2 separate regions of the Homo sapiens genome follow, and region 2 is linked to region 1. Evidence: fine-mapped expression QTL. A gene starts in region 1. The other region holds a variant in brackets. All regions are shown on one strand. Distances are between the middles of the regions. Region 1 holds the start of PPA1 (inorganic pyrophosphatase 1). Region 2 overlaps COL13A1 (collagen type XIII alpha 1 chain).

Evidence for each region. PIP is the estimated chance that this variant, and not a neighbour inherited with it, causes the effect.
Region 2: its variant is fine-mapped to the expression of PPA1 in ovary (GTEx, PIP 0.95).

The regions. Positions count from the first base shown.
Region 1 is chr10:70,228,002-70,237,064 of GRCh38, forward strand. It overlaps PPA1 (inorganic pyrophosphatase 1), which reads right to left and starts at 5,428. Exons shown (of 11, transcript NM_021129.4): 1 at 5,263-5,428; 2 at 2,340-2,398. The coding sequence starts at 5,326. RefSeq lists a silencer at 5,070-5,639.
Region 2 is chr10:69,887,551-69,896,888 of GRCh38, forward strand. COL13A1 (collagen type XIII alpha 1 chain) reads left to right here. Exons shown (of 41, transcript NM_001368882.1): 9 at 754-780; 10 at 1,864-1,890; 11 at 7,002-7,028; 12 at 7,125-7,151; 13 at 8,000-8,026. Among named protein-coding and RNA genes, the nearest start is that of COL13A1, 90 kb to the left of the region's middle. The variant G/A (reference allele first, on the strand shown) is at 4,556.

The DNA of each region.
Region 1 (9,063 bases):
GTGTTTTAAACAAGTAACTTCCTTTAAAACAAAACAAAAGAATTCCTTCCAGCCTCTCAGGCAGGAAGGCTTCTGCCCAAGGTCCACTGAGGTCTAGACTACTGGTAAAATCCAGAGTCATAAGAACTTGTGCTTTTGAGCTGGGACAGGGCGTGCCAAGGGCAGAGTCTTCCTTTGAGTAATCCACTTTATAGACACAACCAGTCCCTTATAAGGCTTCAGTGTCTGAGAGTAATCTAAGTGAACACACTTAACAGGACACCAAAATGTAGCCTGTTTCCTATTTTGGAGTAACCTGAAGCAGCAATAAGAGTAGGTACCAAAACATCTATGATCATTCTGGTCCTTGGTAGGAATACAGTCACTTAGAACACTGGGAAAATAGCTCTATGTCAAGAAAATGTTTTCCTACCTGTAGCATACCTGTATGCCAGGGTATTATCAATAAACTTAGGGTCATCATTTTATACCTCTTCATTGCTCAAAATGGTCTGAGATGCTACAGTATGATATACATGCTATTATACAACAAGCAGATAATTCAAGCCAACCCAATGGGGCCAATTGAAGAGGGAAGGATTCTGCAGTTTATATCAACTCCCAGGAAATCAGATGTAACAAATTCGAGTTTCTGAATAAATACCACTCTGACACTCCCACAGGAAAAACACATGCCAATTAGAAGTCCCTCCTGTATTTGTGGCACATAATTGGCCTAGGGCTGTTTGCTCCATTGCCTCTAATTGGAGTCTTACCCAGGAAGGCTCCTGGGAAGCAATGTAAAAATTGGAATTTCAGGCAGTACAGAACTGCAGCAAACTTCCTGGTAGAAGTGCAATGAATGTGTCTATTTCTATCTAATAGTCAGGCCCAGAAAAACAGTAAGACAGCACACACAAGAACAAAATTACTATTATTCTAGACGTGCACTGCAAAGTGATGTTCGTGTTGTATATTGACATCTAGCTAAAGAAAGTCAATAACCTATGTAACTCTTACAACTCAAAAACCTTTGTACTCAATGTGAATCAAACTTCCTTACTGAAGGAAAAAAACTGAAAGGTAGAAAAAGAATAAGATATTTGTCCTTGTGTTAAGTTGCTAAATACAGTACAAACTGCTTCCATTGGAAAGGAGAGTAAGAAAAGATGTGTTTTTTAAAATGACTGTTTAAAGTTGTTCTTATAACACATGTTCTTTGTAAAAAGATTAGACAATATAAAAAGACAAAAATGAAAATAAAACCAAGAGTCACTGGCAGTCCCACGAATCATAACTATTTTGATATATATTTTATTGTTATTTATTTTCCTAAGACAGGTTCTTGCTATGTTGCCCAGTCTGGTCTCAAACTCCTGGACTCAAGTGATCCTCCCAGCACAGCCTCCCAAGTGGGATTACAATTGCCCCACACTCAGCTATTCTGGTGTATACAGTTGTAGACTTCTTTTTCCCCTAGAAAAGTAAAGACTTTTACAATTTGTGGTAAGCCTACCAATCTGTATTAAAGTTAGGTTTCTTCTCACTGGTGTATACAGGAACAGCTATGTCCTTTTAGAAGTCTGTGTGCCTACCTGTATTAACTCTATCTTAACTGTGCAAATCTTAACGGTACTAGCCCGTTACTAAATTTTCCTATACTCATTGAATAATCTAGTTTACTTTTACTGTTTCATAAAGATCCCACAGCCAAAATTCTGTGCTGGCTACCTGGTTTATTTTAGAACCAGTAATGAAGTATTACGACTTTAGTTCCAAATACACATACAAAAAGGACCAATGTAATTTTTTCTTTTTTTTTTCCAAGACAGATTAAATACTTTTGCTTTTACTCCTCCTCTCCTTCCCCAAATTATATTTGCTCCTTTAACTAAATAATCTAGTTTTAAGACTAACTTCTTATTTAGTCAATGGACCTTTTTTTTTGAGACAGGGTCTCACTCTGTCACCCAGCTGGAGTACAGTAGTGCCATCTCGGCTCACTGCAACCTCTGCCTCCCAGGCACAAGCGATCCTCTCACCTCAGCCTTCCAAGTAGCTGAGACTACAGACACATGCCACCATGCCCGGCTAATTTTTGTATTTTTTGTAGAGACAGGGTTTCACCATGTTGCCCAGGCTGTTCTTGAACTTCTGGACTCAAGCCCTCCACCCGCCTCAGCCTCCCAAAGTGCTGGGATTACAGGCGTGAGCCACCACGCCCAGCCTAATCAACAGACCTTTAGCTCACAGCACAACGAGGCATTTTAAGCACTTGTTGAGAGACATATAAGAAAATTCATATGTAGAACTAGCTGATCTGAGTAAAGAGACTGTGTCCAAAAACAAGGATGCCTTACCTTATCTGCATAAATTGGAATATCATGAAATGGAGATATATATTGTCCTTTCTCATTTTCTGCAAAATAAATTAGAAAAAGTTATTACTATAATTAATTGTATTGCTAAATGCCCACAGTACACATTTTTTTTTTCTGAGATAAGGTCCCTTACTCTGTCACCCAGGATGGTGTGCAATGGTGTGATCTTGGCTCACTGCCACTTCTGTTTCCCTCTTGAAGGCTCAAGTGATCCTCCAGCCTCAGCCTCCTGAGCCGCTGGAACTACAGGCATGAGCCACTACGTCTGGCTAATTTTTGTGTCTTTTGTAGGGAGGTGGTGTTGCCATGTTCCCCAGGCTGGTCTCCAACTCCTGAGCTCAAAGCAGTCTGCCCACCTCAGCCTCCCAAAGGGCTGGAATTACAGGGGTGAGCCACCGCACCCTGCACCCGACCAGTACACATTTTTAAACCAAGATATTATTCTTACACTAGAAAAACTGTTTGTATACTTCACTTCTCCTGACTGTACTCCCAGGCTAGGCTGGGTTTACATCCTATGCACTCTGTAGGCATCTAATAAGTACTAATCTCTATAGTGAGAGCAGAGACTACTGAGGACACAAAAGGCGATTAAATTGTTTTGGACTGATCTTACATCAGTTAAGTTTACAGAACCATTATGAAGTACTTGGGAGGAAGGGAGGGGACCACTTTACTAAACAATGTTGCTAAAAGTGGTGTTCCCAGAGACAGCCAGCCATCTTAGATTATGACTTTCTTTAAGGATAATCAAGTTGCAACAAACATCTTCACAAATAATTTCTATTATATTCTAGATATATATTACTAATATATTCTAGAGGCCTAACTATAGCCAAAAAGTAATTTTAAAACTTCTTCAGTATTCTTTAGGAAACCTACTGTCCACATCGCATCCCTTCAAGTTTAAAAATCAAAGTGGAGGCCAGGCACGGTGGCTCACGCCTGTAATCCCAGCACTTTGGAAGGCCAAAGCAGGTGGATCACTGGAGGTAAGGAGTTCAAGACCAGCCTGGCCAACATGGTGAAACCCCGTCTCTACTAAAAATACAAAAATTAGTCAGGCATGGTGGCAAGTGCCTGTAATCCCAGCTACTTGGGAGGCTGAGGCAGGAGAATCACTTGAACCCGGGAGGCTGAAGTTGCAATGAGCCAAGATCATGCCACTGCACTCCAGCCTGGGCAACAGAGCGAGACTTTGTTTCAAAAAACAAACAATAAAACATAAAAGTCCCTTTAGGGCCAATTGTGACTTTGCAGTCTGTCCAGCCCTTTATCAGTTTTAAAGAAATTGACAAATGTAATATTATAAAGCTTAAAAAAGTTTATTTCTATTAAGGAAGGATAAAGCACTTAAAATTGGATAACTATGTAGTGGGTTCTAATTATTAGTATTTCTTAAGTTCCAGAGAGTTCCACTTGATAAAAACAGTTACTTCAGCTAGTGCCAAATTCTAGGAGTAGCTTTGGTCTCCCATAACGGCCACCAAATATTAATTGCAAATAAATAACCTAAGTAAAAGCAGTGTGTTTGTTCTGCATATATAGCTTGAAGATCCACCCCTCACCTTCAAACCAGACAGTCACCTCTGTAAGCCTTTCCTACAGAGAAATTCTGGAGCCAACACTATTTCCAGAAAAACAGTCCCATGAATTATTAGTCAAAAGTTACTGGACTGTCCTTGCTGCTTAATTGCAAAATTAAATAAAATGGAGAGTGGGGGGTAGTTCTCACCCTTCCTGGATTTTACCTGATAGTTAACCTTTGGCTAGATGTGTAAGCTTTACAGTTCGCTTTCCTTTTCCTCCCGCACCAGGCTACTTTTTGTTCCTTCAATGCCTATTCATTCGTCTCCTCTACTCCCCGCTTCCCCTTCCTTCATACACCAACTCAGAGTTCGAGGCACCTGCCCATTTCCTTCCAAATAAAACTGTAAAGAGGTTACAATAGAAGCGCCTGTGGTGACACATTTACGAACGCCTCCGTTATCGCCCATAATCTACTCCTAGTAGCTGGGGGTGGGGGGAGTAAGAGGATAAAGAAAAACCCCAAGTAGCTTTCCTCCACCTACAAGGCCAAAAAAACGTGGTGCCCTAAGGAGCGTGGAGGGCGCCAGCATGCAGCCTCCCGGTTTCCCCGTGCAGCCCTAGGTGCAGGACCCGGGGTAGGTACCCCCTAGACGCCGAATCCTGCAAAGGTAAAAACTTGGCACTTTCTCAGTCTTGTTTCCAGACTGACGTCATCTGTTTGATTTGAGGGAAACAGCTTTCTGTTTCATAAGGAGCATTCCCAGCATCGGCGCTGAGGGAAAACAGGCGGCGCAGAGGCAGGAGCACGACCGGGCCGCGGAGGACCGGTCCAGCGCCTTCACAGACGGCTCCCGATCCGGGCCTCAGTTTTCCCGTCTGTAAAACGAGGGGGTGGACTTGGCTCCGCTCAGCGCCGATAATCTGAGCTACGGCGGCGGAATTAAGGTCTTTAGGAAGTCACTGCCCCCCCCGGCCCGGAGTCGCCTTTTCTCCAAACTGAGCAATCCTCTTACGGGAATTATGTTACTTCCAAGCACCTTTCTAGGGTGGGTCGGTGATTTCCTTTTCCCAACAGACCCTGTCAGAGCCAGACACCTGCAAAACTAGCTGGGCCCAGGTTCGGGTACCCCGAGGCGTGACAAAGGGACCATCTCCGTTCAGCGGGGAGGGATGGCCGGAGGCGACCCTCGCCGCCCCGACCGGCGGCGGCAAGTATGCAATGTGAGGCCGGCCAGGCCCCACAACGCGCCCGAGGAGACGGGCCCGCGTCGGAGACCTGGGGCCGAGCGCGGGCCGCACCCTCCCGGGGAGGCAAGGCCCGGGAATGAATGGGCGGACGGGCGCGGAGGGGCCACGGGCCGCAGACACTCACTGAGGAAGACTCGGTACTCCAGGGAGAAGGGCGCGGCGCGCTCCTCGGTGCTGAAGCCGCTCATAGTGCCGGAGTCCTGCCGCCGCCGCTGCCACAGAGCCACCAGCCCGCACGCGGCGCCGACTGACAAGGAGAGAGCCCCACGCCTGCGCACTGCGAGCACTGGACCGGCGGGCGGGGCGGGGAGCGCCTTTAACGCGGCTCTGCTAGTGTTCCCACCCCCGCCGGGCCAACCCCGTGCGCAGGCGCACTCCGCCAGGCCCGGGTGTCCGCACTCCCCAGCCCCGCCCCTCGGGCCCAGCCTCCGCGATGGCAGCTAGGGCTCAGAGGCTGGGCCACGTGGCTGCCGCCGGCGCTGGTTCTGTTCCTTCGGCTTTGGGCTCTGACCCGGGAGGGCAAATGCGCAGGCTCTAAGCTTGGACTAGCTAGGAGTTGACCGCCGACCACGCACACAGGGAACTCACCTTTGATTCTCACACACTCCTCCCCGCAGTCCTATTCCTTATCTCAAAAGGCGTTGATAAGTCACCTGCTTCCCCAGACAGGCTCTGCTTGCGGTCTTAAAGGTGAGCATTTTTCTGATCCGTCGTAACAAAGTTGAGCCATATTACTGACACCCCTAGTGGCTACTAGTAAGGTACTCGCTTCTCCACTTTCTATAATCTCTCTCACTCCGTTGCTTATCTGGGAAGTGAAGATAATAATATAACTATTTCATGAGTTACTGGGATGATTACCCGAGTTAATACACGTCAAATGCCTGAAGCAGAGCCTGTATCTTTGTAAACAATCTGGAAGTTGTTACTGTCACCCTCCCCAGTGGGGGAGGATTTACGCCCCCGCGCCCCCCGCCCCCTCCATCCCCCCTGCCACCCTACTTAACCCACCTGGGTCTCCAGGGGCTTCAGATGGAAGCACTGGGAAGGTCCAGGCGTGAGCTAGAGTCCCGTGAAGGAGTGTTCTCAGGGACAGGCTCTTCTGATCTTGATTTCCTGTTTATATTCCATCATATCAGGCCAGACCCCAAAAACTAAAGTCTGATTGAGGCAGTGGGAAAATATTTGCATCACTTACCTCCCCAGGAATACATGTAAAAGAAAAAAAGTATATCCACAATCCTAAATATAAATTAGCAAATTATTATTCACATTTCAAAGAATGCCTGGTTTTATTTATTTATTTATTTTAATTTCATGGCCAGGATTTCTTTAAATAACTTTTTCTAGAACATTAAAGATAATGTGCCTTAATGACATTTTGAATTAAACCCTTTTTTCCAAACAATGTCTATTGTAAAAAATGAATATTAAATGAAAACCTAGTAAGATCTCCAGTTAGTTATGGTGTCGCTCCCTTTGTCTCCATCCAACTCCCAAACCTCACTGACACCCATTAATTTTCAGAAGGCTGTGATTCACTGATTTTTTGAACATTTCACCACACTGTTTTACTGCTGTTAAAACAGAAGGGCAGGAAAAAAAATTAGCGAAGCAATAGTTTAGTCAATAATTAGGGTCAAGGCCAGGCGCGGTGACTTACGCCTTCAATCCCAGCACTTTGGGAGGCCGAGGTGGGCGGATTACCCGACGTCAGGAGTTGGAAACCAGCCTGGCCAACACAGTGAAACCCTGTCCCTAGTAAAAATACAAAAATTAGCTGGGCGTGGTTGCACGCGCCTGTAATCCCAGCTACTCGGGAGACTGAGGCAGGAGAACACTTGATCCCGAGAGGCGGAGGTTGCGGTGAGTTGAGATCACGCCAGTGCATTCCAGCCTGGGTGACAGAGCGAGACTCTGTTTCAGAAAAAAAAGTAGGATCAAGTTCAAAGAATATTTTAAGGGGATGCTCTTTTGATTGAACTGCTCTATCACTTTTCTGCCTTTGAGCAGATGGAACCAATTTTCTTGGAAAAACCCAGACTCTCATCTGTGACTGACTTAAGAAGACAGCAGTGATGCAATAATAATGTTCTACATACACTTTCCCTTTGCCTCCTGCCAGCTCAGAGCAAGATAATAAAGTCTCACTGACCTCCAGACTTGCACACTGGCTCTTGTTTCATCGAATGTATTCAGAGAGCCAGTCATTATCAGGTCTGGTAAAACACCCAGCCCTGGTGAATTGTAACTTTCCTTTGCAGGCAAGTGTAGTGAGCCCATAGGCCCAAAAGGACCTTGGTCTACCATGTCTCCCTAGGGCCTAGCACAGTACACAGCCTAGAGTAGATGTTTAGTGAATCTTTGCTGGACGGATAGGTAGAGGAATTAATGTAAAGGTGGAAAATACCTTCTTAAGTACATTAGTTTGACAAAGAAGGAGTCCATCTCTTCTCAAATATTATCTTTCTCACTCAGTGACCAAATCTAGTGGCACTTTTCAGTCCATATCCTGTCCCCTTTGCTGTGGGTGACCCTGTTGGGTGTCTCTAATTTCCTTCTTTGGCTTGCGACTACATTCTCTTCTTTTTTTTTTTTTTCTTTTTTGAGACAGAGTCTCACTCTGTCACCCAGGCTGGAGTACAGTGGTGTGATTTCGGCTCACTGCAACCTCCACCTCCCAGGTTCAAGTGATTCTTGTACCTCAGCCTCCTGAGTAGCTGGGATCACAGGCATGCACCACCATGCCTGGCTAATTTTAGTATTTTTAGTAGAGATGTGTTTTCATCATGTTGGCCAGGCTAGCCTCGAACTCCTGGCCTCAAATGATCTGCCCACCTCAGCCTCCCAGAGTGTTGGGATTACAGGCGTGAGACACGGTGCCAGGCCACGACTACATTCTCTTCTCGTGTTCTTCCTACTTCTTTTTTTTTTTTTTTTGAGATGGGGTCTCGCTCTGTCGCCCAGGCTGGAGTGCGGTGGTGCGATCTCGGCTCACTGCAACCTCCGCCTCTCGGGTTCAAGCAATTCTCCCGCCTCAGCCTCCAGAGTAGCTGGGATTACAGGCGCCTGCCACCACGCCCAGCTAATTTTTTGTACCTTTAGTAGAGACCGGGTTTCACCATGTTGGCCAAACTGGTCTCGAAGCCCTGACCTCGTGATCTGCCTGCCTCGGCCTCCCAAAGTGCTGGGATTACAGGCATGAGCCACCACGCCCGGCCCATTCCTACTTCTTTGCTACTCATTTCTCATTCTCCTTCTCAGCCTTCATTTCATCATCTTAATCATCATTGTCTTTCTTATTTCTCATGTTCTCTCTCTCTCTCTAGAGCAATACTCTTTGTCTAGATTATCTCATGTATATCTCTGGCGTCAGCTACCACCTAGAGGTCCTATAACATGAAAACTTTCAAATCTATAACTAACTCTTATTTAACACTTACTGTGGTCATGCTCTGTGATAGGTGGGTAGGGATGTAGCCCTACTAGGCCTTATAGTCAGAACTTATAGTCTAGAAGAAAGACAGACTTCAACAAATAATTATAATAAATTTGGGTGAGTAGAATGATATAGGAAGTACAGGGCATTACATTATGGGAGCAGAAAACCTCTTCAAGGAAGTGACCTGTAACCTGCAATCTGAATGATGACATGGAATTAATAAGGCAAAGGGGACAAGGCAAAAGCCAGAAAACGGTTAGGTGAGACTAGGCCGGGCGCGGTGGCTCATGCCTGTAATCCCAACACTTTGGGAGGCCAAGGCCGGCGGATCACGAGCTCAGGAGTTCGAGACCAGCCTGACCAACATGGTGAAACCCGTCTCTATTTAAAAATATACAAAAATAAGCTGGATGTGGTGGCACGCACCTGTAATCCCAGCTACTCAGGAGGCTGAGGCAGGAGAATCTCTTGAACCCAGAAGGC
Region 2 (9,338 bases), 340 kb before region 1:
AAACTTCATCTGAGGTCAGCCCCGGTTCCACTCTTTCTCTCCCAAACCCTGGTCATTAAGGACTTGCTTCTACAGCCATTCATGGACACCAACTCAGGACAGTAGCTCAGCAGTCAGGTCATGATGCAAGGAATAAATACAGGGGAGCAAATACACAAATTAAGGGGCAGCAGGACAGGCCCCAGGTGAGTGAAGTCACAGGCTGATAAACCCCAGCATTGACCTGGGAATATAGAATGGACGATGCCCTGTGGGAGAACACCCTGCAGCTCAGCCTGTGCCTGAGCTTTGAGAGGAGATCCAGCGAGGGGGAGGCAGAGGGGTGGCCATCTGGGTGTCCTTGACCTCTGCTTATGGGGCCTAAGGCAGGTTCTGACAGGCAGAGCAGAGGGAGCAGTTCCCCCTTTCTCCCAACCTCAATGCAGGCCAGCCCCTGATTTCTAGGAACACACCACCTACTCTGCACTCAGGACAAGGGTGAGGTCCTTGACATTAATGGGGAGGCCACCCATTGGGTTCTCTCTTGCGCTGTGCACCTGGCATCCAACATTCTATTATTCTCAACCCCATTTCAGGATGGGAAGTTGAGGCCTAGGCTTACCCATAGTCACATTAACAAGTACGTGGTCAAGCAGGGCCTTGAGCTCCAACTTATCAGAATCCAGAATCTGTGCTTTTCCCCACTGCCCAGGCAGCCTCTTTGGCAGGAGTCCTGTGATGCTCAGTCTTTACATCTGGCCTTTCTGGTTTCAGGGTCCCATTGGGCTGGACGGCAAACCGGTAAGTGGACCCGCTCTCTCCCCTCACTGCAGGTCAGTGATCCTGGATCTCTTGGTCATTCTGCAAGATATTGAATCCTTGGAAAATGCTTTACTTAGAAAGAAAAGTCCTGGGGCTGAAGGTTGTCACTAGTGGGAAGTGGAGGGGGCCATTTGAGTCACCCCTGACCCCAGTGGCCTTCCCCAGGGCACAGGTCCCCAGCTGCTGAGCTTGGCTTTCGAAGTCCAGGCGAGAGCCATCCCTAGAATGGGTGATTCTGGGTGGGGTGGGGGTGAGATCAGGAGGCAGTGAGGAGAGTGGAGGGTACGGAGGTCAAATAGCTGGTCTGAAGAGCCTGGCCACTCATGCACACGCTTGCCCCTGCTCCCCAGCACCTGTGTCTCCCATGGCCCTGTCCTCGAGGTCAGGGTCTCCCTCCCCGATTGAGACCCCACACGTGTGCTCAAGTCCACGTGGAGACTGCTTCCCACCATAGCTCCTCTCTTCGTTCATTTCAATCCTTTGGACTTGGTTCCCTGACACAAATGTTCATGGGAGAAAGGAGTCCCCTCCCCAGTCCTAGGAGCAAGTCAGCTGGAAGGGAGCATGACCCATCCAAAGCCCTCAGGGTGGACGGAATGCAGCCCCACTCACAGCCATGCCTGGCCCCGCCACTCGCCTCTCTCAGTTGAGGGACCCTAGCACCACCCAGTTACTCCCCAACTGCAGGCCAGCGAGCTAAGTGCAGCCCAGGGGTGCCAGCAATCATTTCCACTCATGTCACGGGACCAGGCATCCCCCGAAGCTACCCTGGACATGTGAATGGCATGAGCGTTGGGGTCTAGGGAGACTACCCCCACCCCTGCTCTCTGAAGGGCAGGCAGCTGCTAGTGAGGCCCAGCGAGGGGCAGTGAGCAAATGACCTTGCCTTAGGGACTGGGTGAAGGAGTGCACAAGCCAGAAGGTGCAGATGGAGCACAGGGGACAGGGAGGAGCACGGGGGGCAGGGAGGAGCACAGGGGGCAGGGAGGAGCATGAAGGACAGAGGGTGGAACTTCTGGGCTGCGAACAGTGCACCTGGTACTCACCCTCTTCTCCTTCCAGGGCCACCCAGGACCAAAGGGCGACATGGTAAGAGCCCAGCTTTCCTGCCTTCCCGAGATGGGTGGGGGTTGGCCCAGCCTCACAGGCACAGCCAAGCACTGCAAAGTGGGTCCCACAGGGACAACAGGAATGGCTGTCCATGCTGGTCACTCCCCAGCTGTGTAAACCACATGCCCTGGATCCTCACATCAATATGCAGGGAGGAGAAATGGGCAGGGGCTTCTCCATCTGAAGCATGAGGATGGGAGATCCAGAGAGAGTGCACACCTGGCTGGTAGCACACAGAGGTCGGTGTCCAGCTTACTGCTCTCAAACCACACTCGCATGGGCCTTGGGAGACAAGGTTTCATCTGCACTCACAGGGGACACTTTCTCTAGGAGACACCATTTCTACTGAGCCTGAGGTCCCTCAAGGCCTCATAACCCCTTCCGGGTGCTGGCTGTGCCCTGAGCCACCCCAGGACTCCAGGGGTTCCTGCCCCACTGGGGCTGGTGGTGCCCAGTGGATCATCTCAGCTGGGGGTGCCACATGCATCATCCCAAAGGCCCCTTCCCCTCTCCCTTCCTGGGAGTTTCTGTTTGGAGGTTGGGCCACTTGGCAAGTCAGGAGCAGGAGCAAGGTCTTCTCTTCCATGTCACAGCATCCCGCGGCCACCACCCAGATGGATCTGCCCAGGGTACCTGGAGTGCCTCAGGCCCCAAAAAGGTGGAGAGACAACATTTGGCCCAGCTTTCTCCTGGCCCCTACCTTCTGCAGAGCTTTGGAAATAAATTTTCTGTCTCCACAGACCATCCCTTCCAGAAGGGAATGAGGGGCTGCGCACTCTCACGGTGGGCCAGATCTCAGCAGGGACTGATGGGCCATTAAGAGCTAATGGGCCCCTGCTCCCACACTGTGGAGTGTATTTTGGTTTTCAATAAATCCCTGCTTTAAAAAAACAAACAAACAGACAGACAAACAAAACAGCCCTGGGCTGGGGTGCATTTCTGCCTCCTAAGATCCAGGTCGCACCTACTGTGAGGGACCACCTCCTGCTCCACAGGTTGGTGGGCCAGGAATTTGTGCAGGGTGGTGAAAGCAACGCAGCAGGCTCCCCCTGTCCCTGTTCAGTGGGGGCCTGGCTCATGCCTTGCTCCAAGCGCTGGTGTGAAGACAACCCTTGACCCATGACTGGGGCACTGCCAGGGCATGGAGGGAGGCAGGTAATCATGTGGGTGGAAAGGGGGATGGTGGAGTGTTGGCTGCAAGGCCTGGGCTCCAGCCTAGCTCTTCCTAACTTGCCAGCTCCCTCTGGGCCCCAACCTGTCCTCTTGACTCAGATCCAACTAATATTTATTGAGGGTTTGCCACGTGGTTGGCACTGGGCTAAGCACTTTGCATGACTGTCTCAATCCTCAGCGTAACTCTGTGCTCCAGGTCTTGCTAGAATCCCCTTTGACAGGTGTGGAAACCAAGGCTCAGAGAGTCTAACTAACTTGCCTGAAGTCACACAGCTGAATGTCCAAAACAAGATCGAAACACAGTTCTCAAATTCCTTCCCTCCCTTTTTTTATTAAGGTTTTATTACCTTCCTCCCTTTCTGTTTCCCTCACTCTTTGTCAGCCTTCCTGCCACCTTCCTTCTTTTAATGCATTTTTTATGGAGTATCTAAAATGTGCTGGGCACTGCTTCAGGTGCTAGGGATACAGACGGGAGCAAGAGAGAGACTGTTCTTGCCATCTGTAGCTCACAGTCTAGTAGGGAGACATCCTTTTAAATGATCACTCACATAACTAACAAGTTGCTTTGCAATGAGTGCTATAAAAAGATAATCCTTAGTGCCCTGGAAATCTTGGTATAACAAAAACCTCACCCAGGCCAAAGGTCGGAGACGGCTTTTCTGAGAAAGAGACTTTTGAACTAGTGCCTGAAGAATGAGCATTCAACCGAGAGAAAATAGAAAGGGGGATGGGAATGTGCTTTCTGGACATGGGAGAATAGCACGTGCAAAGGTCCTGAGGTAGGAAAATCCTTGACATGTCTGCAGAACCGGAGGAAGGGCACTGGAGGCAGAAGGCCCTGGAGGCAGTGGCAGAAGAGCTGGCGCTGGAATCCAGGTTCCCCAGCAAGGTTTCCTCTCCATCACAGCTGCCTCCGCTGCAAATGCATTTCCCCCCGCCCCTACCCCATTCCCAGGCATGCTGTGCACATGCATGGAGTAGTGGAGACCGAGGCAGGAAGAAACTGCCATGCCACATTGTTATAGAGGCATAAAGGGCTTGGGGTGCTCATCCCTTCAGCCTGAGCTTCTTTCCCTCTCTGGCAGCCTTATGCTACCGTAAGGCAGCCCATGGCCCCCCAGAAGTAATAATAATGGTCATCCTCTAGGCAGCACTCTGTCATCCTCATAACAGCTTATCATCCCCACTTCATGAGAGGGGAAATTGAGGCACAGAGTGGCTAAGTACATTGCCTGAGGCCACAAAGCTCCTAAATACAACAGCTGAGATTCAGACCCATGCAGTGGAGTCTTACCCCTCGATCACACCTCCTCTCAGCAGCCAGCACTTTGTCCTGGAGGAAAGGGACCCTTCCATGGGGCCGCTTTTCCTGCCCTCATTCTGCCACACCGTCCCTCTGCCCCACACACTTGACCGCCTGTCCAGGGATCAGAGCTAACTCAACAGAAAAGGCAGGCCCACCCCCTCTCTC[G/A]TGAGCCCACATCAGTGGGATAGATCCCCTGTCTGCCTCATCAAATCCAGCAGGCCACAGAGCATCTGATTCCTGTTTGGCTTGGCATGGGTACCCGAGCTGTTAGTTGCCCACCGCTGTCCAGCATCATTACCTTGCCCTGCTCTTCATCTGTCTGTCTCCTGCCCCAGATGCTGTCCCCTCCACTGGCGTCCCACTGGGGCACTGGCACTCACCCTCATTGTTTAACCTGTGTCCTCACCTCTCAAAAGGGAGTCACCTCTGCCCCACCCCCCCACTTCACATTATTCCCAAGAACCTGAAATAAGGTGTTGAAGTGTTGGGAGGACACAGTTGTATAATAGTGTAGTTGGGGGGTGGACAAGATTGGGGGTCTGAGACTCAGGAATGACATAAGGGCTGTAAAGCAAGGCCTGGACTGAGTCCAAATCTCACCCACCACCCACAGGGCTGTCGAGTGAGGAGCGCCAGGCACTCAGAACATGCTTGGCACCCGAGAAGCAGACAGGCGCCTTAGCTATGCCTCAGTGGCGGTTAGCACAGGCCTGCTGGCAAGTGCTAAGCACATCACCGGTGGCCATGGCCCTTAAAGGGGCAGGTGCTGCCTGGCTGAAGATAACTGGTACCATGTGTTGTTGGACCTCGACATAATTAAGAGAAACTTGAAATCCAAATTTTTATTTGCACTCTGCTTGCTCTCTTAAGTATTGGCAACTAGTTGAAATAAAACCATGTGGGACAAACAAAATCCCTATGAAGACCACGATTGTCCCCTGGGCCACCGTTTGGGATGTCTGGTTTCAATTGTCCAAGTCTCTGCAGTCCTGAAACTCCGCCTGCCCCTCCCCCATCACACTTATATCTCTGTCCTGACAGAGGATGACCTGGTCACCTGTGGTCTGGGCCCGGGTTCCCTGCCGGATGAATCATGTGCTGCAGAACTTCATTCTAAGCACTCTGCCAGGCCGAGCGCGGTGGCTCACACCTGTAATCCCAGAACTCTGGGAGGCCAGCACGGGCAGATTGCTTGAGTCTGGGAGTTTGAGAGCAGCCTGGGCAACATGGCAAAACCCTGTCTCTACAAAAAAATGCAAGAGTTAGCCAAGCACGGTAGTGTGTGCCTGTAGACCTAGCTATTTGTGAGGCAGAGGTGGGAGGACTGCCTGAACCCAGGAGGCAGAGGCTGCAGTGAGCGGAGATCACACCACTGTACTCCATTCTGGACAACAGAGCGAGACCCTGTCTCAATAAAACAATAAAAGACCAATAAACACTTGGCCAGCCACATGGGCTGGGAGTGCCACATGGATGGTCCCAAAGGCCACTTCTCCCTTCCAGTGATGCTCTTGGGAGTTTCCCAGTTTGGAGGTGGCCCTGTTGGCAAGCGGGGAGCAGGAACAAGGCTCTGGCACATCACAGCATGCTGCGGCCACCTCCCAGATGGACCCACCCTTGGGGATCTGCAGTGCTTCAGGCCCCAAAGAGACTGGTGGCTCAAAGGGACCTGCTTATGGCTCTAGCCAAGTCTAGAAGCCCTGACTCCCAAGGTCTGGCCCAGTTCTGAGCATTTGGCAGTGGAAACAGCTGGACCTTGGCCGTCAGACAAACCTGGGCTCCTGTCCCAGTGCCACCTTTCACTGAGCCATGGGGCCTTGTCTCTGTCACCTCACTCGGGAGCTGGAGTGGACACAAGCATCTCCCTCACAGACACATACCTGAAGAGCCAGCCTCAGGGTGGATCCTCAGCCCATAAGGCATTTGTTTTCTCCTCTTCCCTCCACCAGCCTTGGTGCAGCCTCCTAAGAGAGCCAGAGCATGCGGGGCCCTCCCCAGACAGCAAGGGTCCCTCCCAACCCCAGCTCCTTTCCTAGCCCTGCATGGACAAGACAACCTTGAAGGAAACTTCAAGACCCCTCATATTCCTTGGAGAAGTCCAGAACATGGCTTCAGTTGCCAACTTCCTGCTTTCTCTCTTTTGCTGAAGGTTTCTCTAAGGCCCCCATTGTCTGAGGCACCGGCCCAGCACCCCCAGGCCAGAAGTTCTTCTGGTTCAGTGGGCTTCACTGCAGCCTGGGAGGCAGGAGGTGGAATGTGCTAGTGTCTCCCAGAGGCTTGATGCATGTGAGGTAGGGGGTCCCATGGAGCAGAAAACTCCCTGACCTCTAGGTAGAGCCCCTCCATAGCTGGCCCATGAGATGCTGGTGGTTGGAGGAATGGATGAAAGATGCCATCTGTTCTTCATCACAGCCCTAGTCCTGCCCACTGGGGGGTGAAGCAGCTGAGACTCTGTGAATAAGACATCTTGAATGTGGTGGGCATGGGAAGACCTGGCCATGGCTGGTAGAGCCCAGCCTTCGGGATTCAGCCCCAATCCCCACCCAGGCAGGTGTCCCTGATTGCCTGTCTTCTGTCTGCCCACTGACCTGTGTGTGTTTGCTTCCCACAGGGTCTGACGGGTCCCCCAGGACAGCCGGTTGGTACCTCATCCATCTATTTCCCAGCAGAGAAGCTTCCGGTGGCTGTGACCTTAGCTTTGGTTTCTAACTCTCTCATCTCCGTCTCTTTGTAGGGACCCCAGGGACAAAAAGGAGAAAAGGTAAGAGCAGTGGAGGTTTCCTAGAGTCTCCATCTCAGGAAATGGCCTCCCAGTTGGTAGAAAGGGGTCAATTATGGTTATTTTCAAACTTCAGTTTTAATTGACAGAACCAGGAAAGCCCCCGAGGTGCCGCATAATAGATTCGGTTGACACCGCTCCAGGGGACATCCTTTTCTTGGAGTGAGGGGTCCTCCTGGAGGCTGGTCCGGGTGACATCCTTTCCAGGGGTCCTCCTGGAGCCTGGCCCTCTTCAGCCTCTTTCTGGGCCCCTCCCAGCTGTCACTCCATGGTGTTCCCTGACACCTCCATGAGCCTCTGGGATTCTGAGAGGCATCAACCTGTAAACCACTGGCCTGGCCTCCTGCCCTCTCTGTCTTGTTGAATTTCTGATAGAGACACTGCTGTGCTTGCCCTTGGGCCGCTGGTACAGGGGCCTGGCGCTCCCAGCTCAGAGAAGGTGGCTTGGGACCCCCATGGTGCCGGCTGCTCCCATCCGGTGGCTCCTGTTCAGGGCTGTCTGGTGGGCCTGCCTAGAGGGTCAACCTTTCGCCAGGCATGGGGCATAACTCCCGACTCTGCCATTATGGCAAGTGGTATAAGGCGAAGCCCCACCCCTAGGCTCCCTGGGGCCACTTCCAGGCAGGCCATGGAAGTTTCTTCCCTGCTGCTAGCCAGGGGCAAGGGAGGGACTTAGTTCTTCTGCCTCAGAGGGCTCAGACCAAAACTAGAGCAGGAGGGCTGGTGAGCGGTGACATGTGTGGCATGTCCTGAAGTGCTGGGGGTGCCCTGAGAAACAGGTACCCCCAACAAGTGCCTAACACCACCTTTCCCTTCCCTCTCCTTCCCAGGGTCAGTGTGGAGAGTACCCACACCGGGTAAGTGAACCCCTAAAATTTAGCAGGGCACTTTGATCCATCCCTGGGGCACAGCGCCCAGCTCAGCCTCATCTCCCTGGGGTCTCCAGTTACTAACAGATCATGGGGGAGCAGGAGCACCCACTGCCCTCTGCACTCAGCAGTCAGAGAGGGGAGCTTGGGATGGTGGTGCGTCTGGTGGGAACAGCTGATGTGTCTCTCCAGCCATGTGCTATATGGAGCCGCTCATCACCCGTGCGTGTCTGTACATCCGCCCCTTTGTACGTACGTCTGACTCGGTATGTTGGAGTCTCCTGCTGTGTGTCTGGAGCTCTGTGGCTGCTCTGCACATGGCCCCCTGTGGCAGCGTGACTTGTGTGAGTCTGTTTGACTCCCCACCCAACAAGCATGTGTGTGCGTGTGTGTGGCGGTAGGGGGGTGGTGTCTGGCAGCCTAGCCGTGGCCAAAACAGTGGGACTTTTCTATTAGTCACTGTATCAGATGATGGTGTTTCACATCCAAACCTCGATGATGGGAGATAATCGGGGACTGACTGCAGCAATTCAAGGATAAAATCTCTCCTTGGCCTCTTTAAAAGCAGAGGAAACCCTTCTCCAAGCAGGGTGGGGATTTCAGGCTGAGATGGTTCCTCTGCCCACCCCCGCCTGCTCCTTCCTTTTCCTTGCTCCACCCCAAGACACAGAACCCAAAAGACTGCTGTTGTCCTGTTAGGAATCTTCAAACTTGTGTCCCAGCAGCAGGGTCGATCTTGGGACAGGGGAGAGCAAGATACGCACAGCTTCCTCCAGTAGGAGCCCCAGTGAGCTGGACCCAGAAAAAAATGCCCCTCATTTTGTGGATTGGCCTCGTTGCTCCCAGACCTGGACAGCAGGGATGGAAGATGAGCATCTTTAGGCATCTCTCCCCGCTGTCATGTGCCCCATGGTGCTCAGCTTCCCTGGCTGCCCACCCCTGCCAGGCAGGTCCGGGTGGTGCGATTTTGGGAGTGGAGACAGACATAAGCCAGGCTCAGTGCCAGCTTGACTCTAGAAGGCTGTCAGGAGGGCAATGCTAGCAGGGCCTAGCCTCTGCCCAGACCCTCAGGAAGCTGGAAGGCAGGCCTGAGGTCTGGGTTCCTGGGCCAGGGAACCACTGTGAGCCTGGTACGTGAGAGGCTGGGATGGGTTTAAGGCTACGGCGGTGCTGGGCCCGGGCTGAGGAAGGCAGGCCAGCAGCAGCACAGTCAGAGCCACAGCCTGTCAGCGGCATGTGCTCCAGGGATGCAGGGGCCCTGCTGTTCCGGCCAGCCTGATCCTGATACAATAATAGAAGG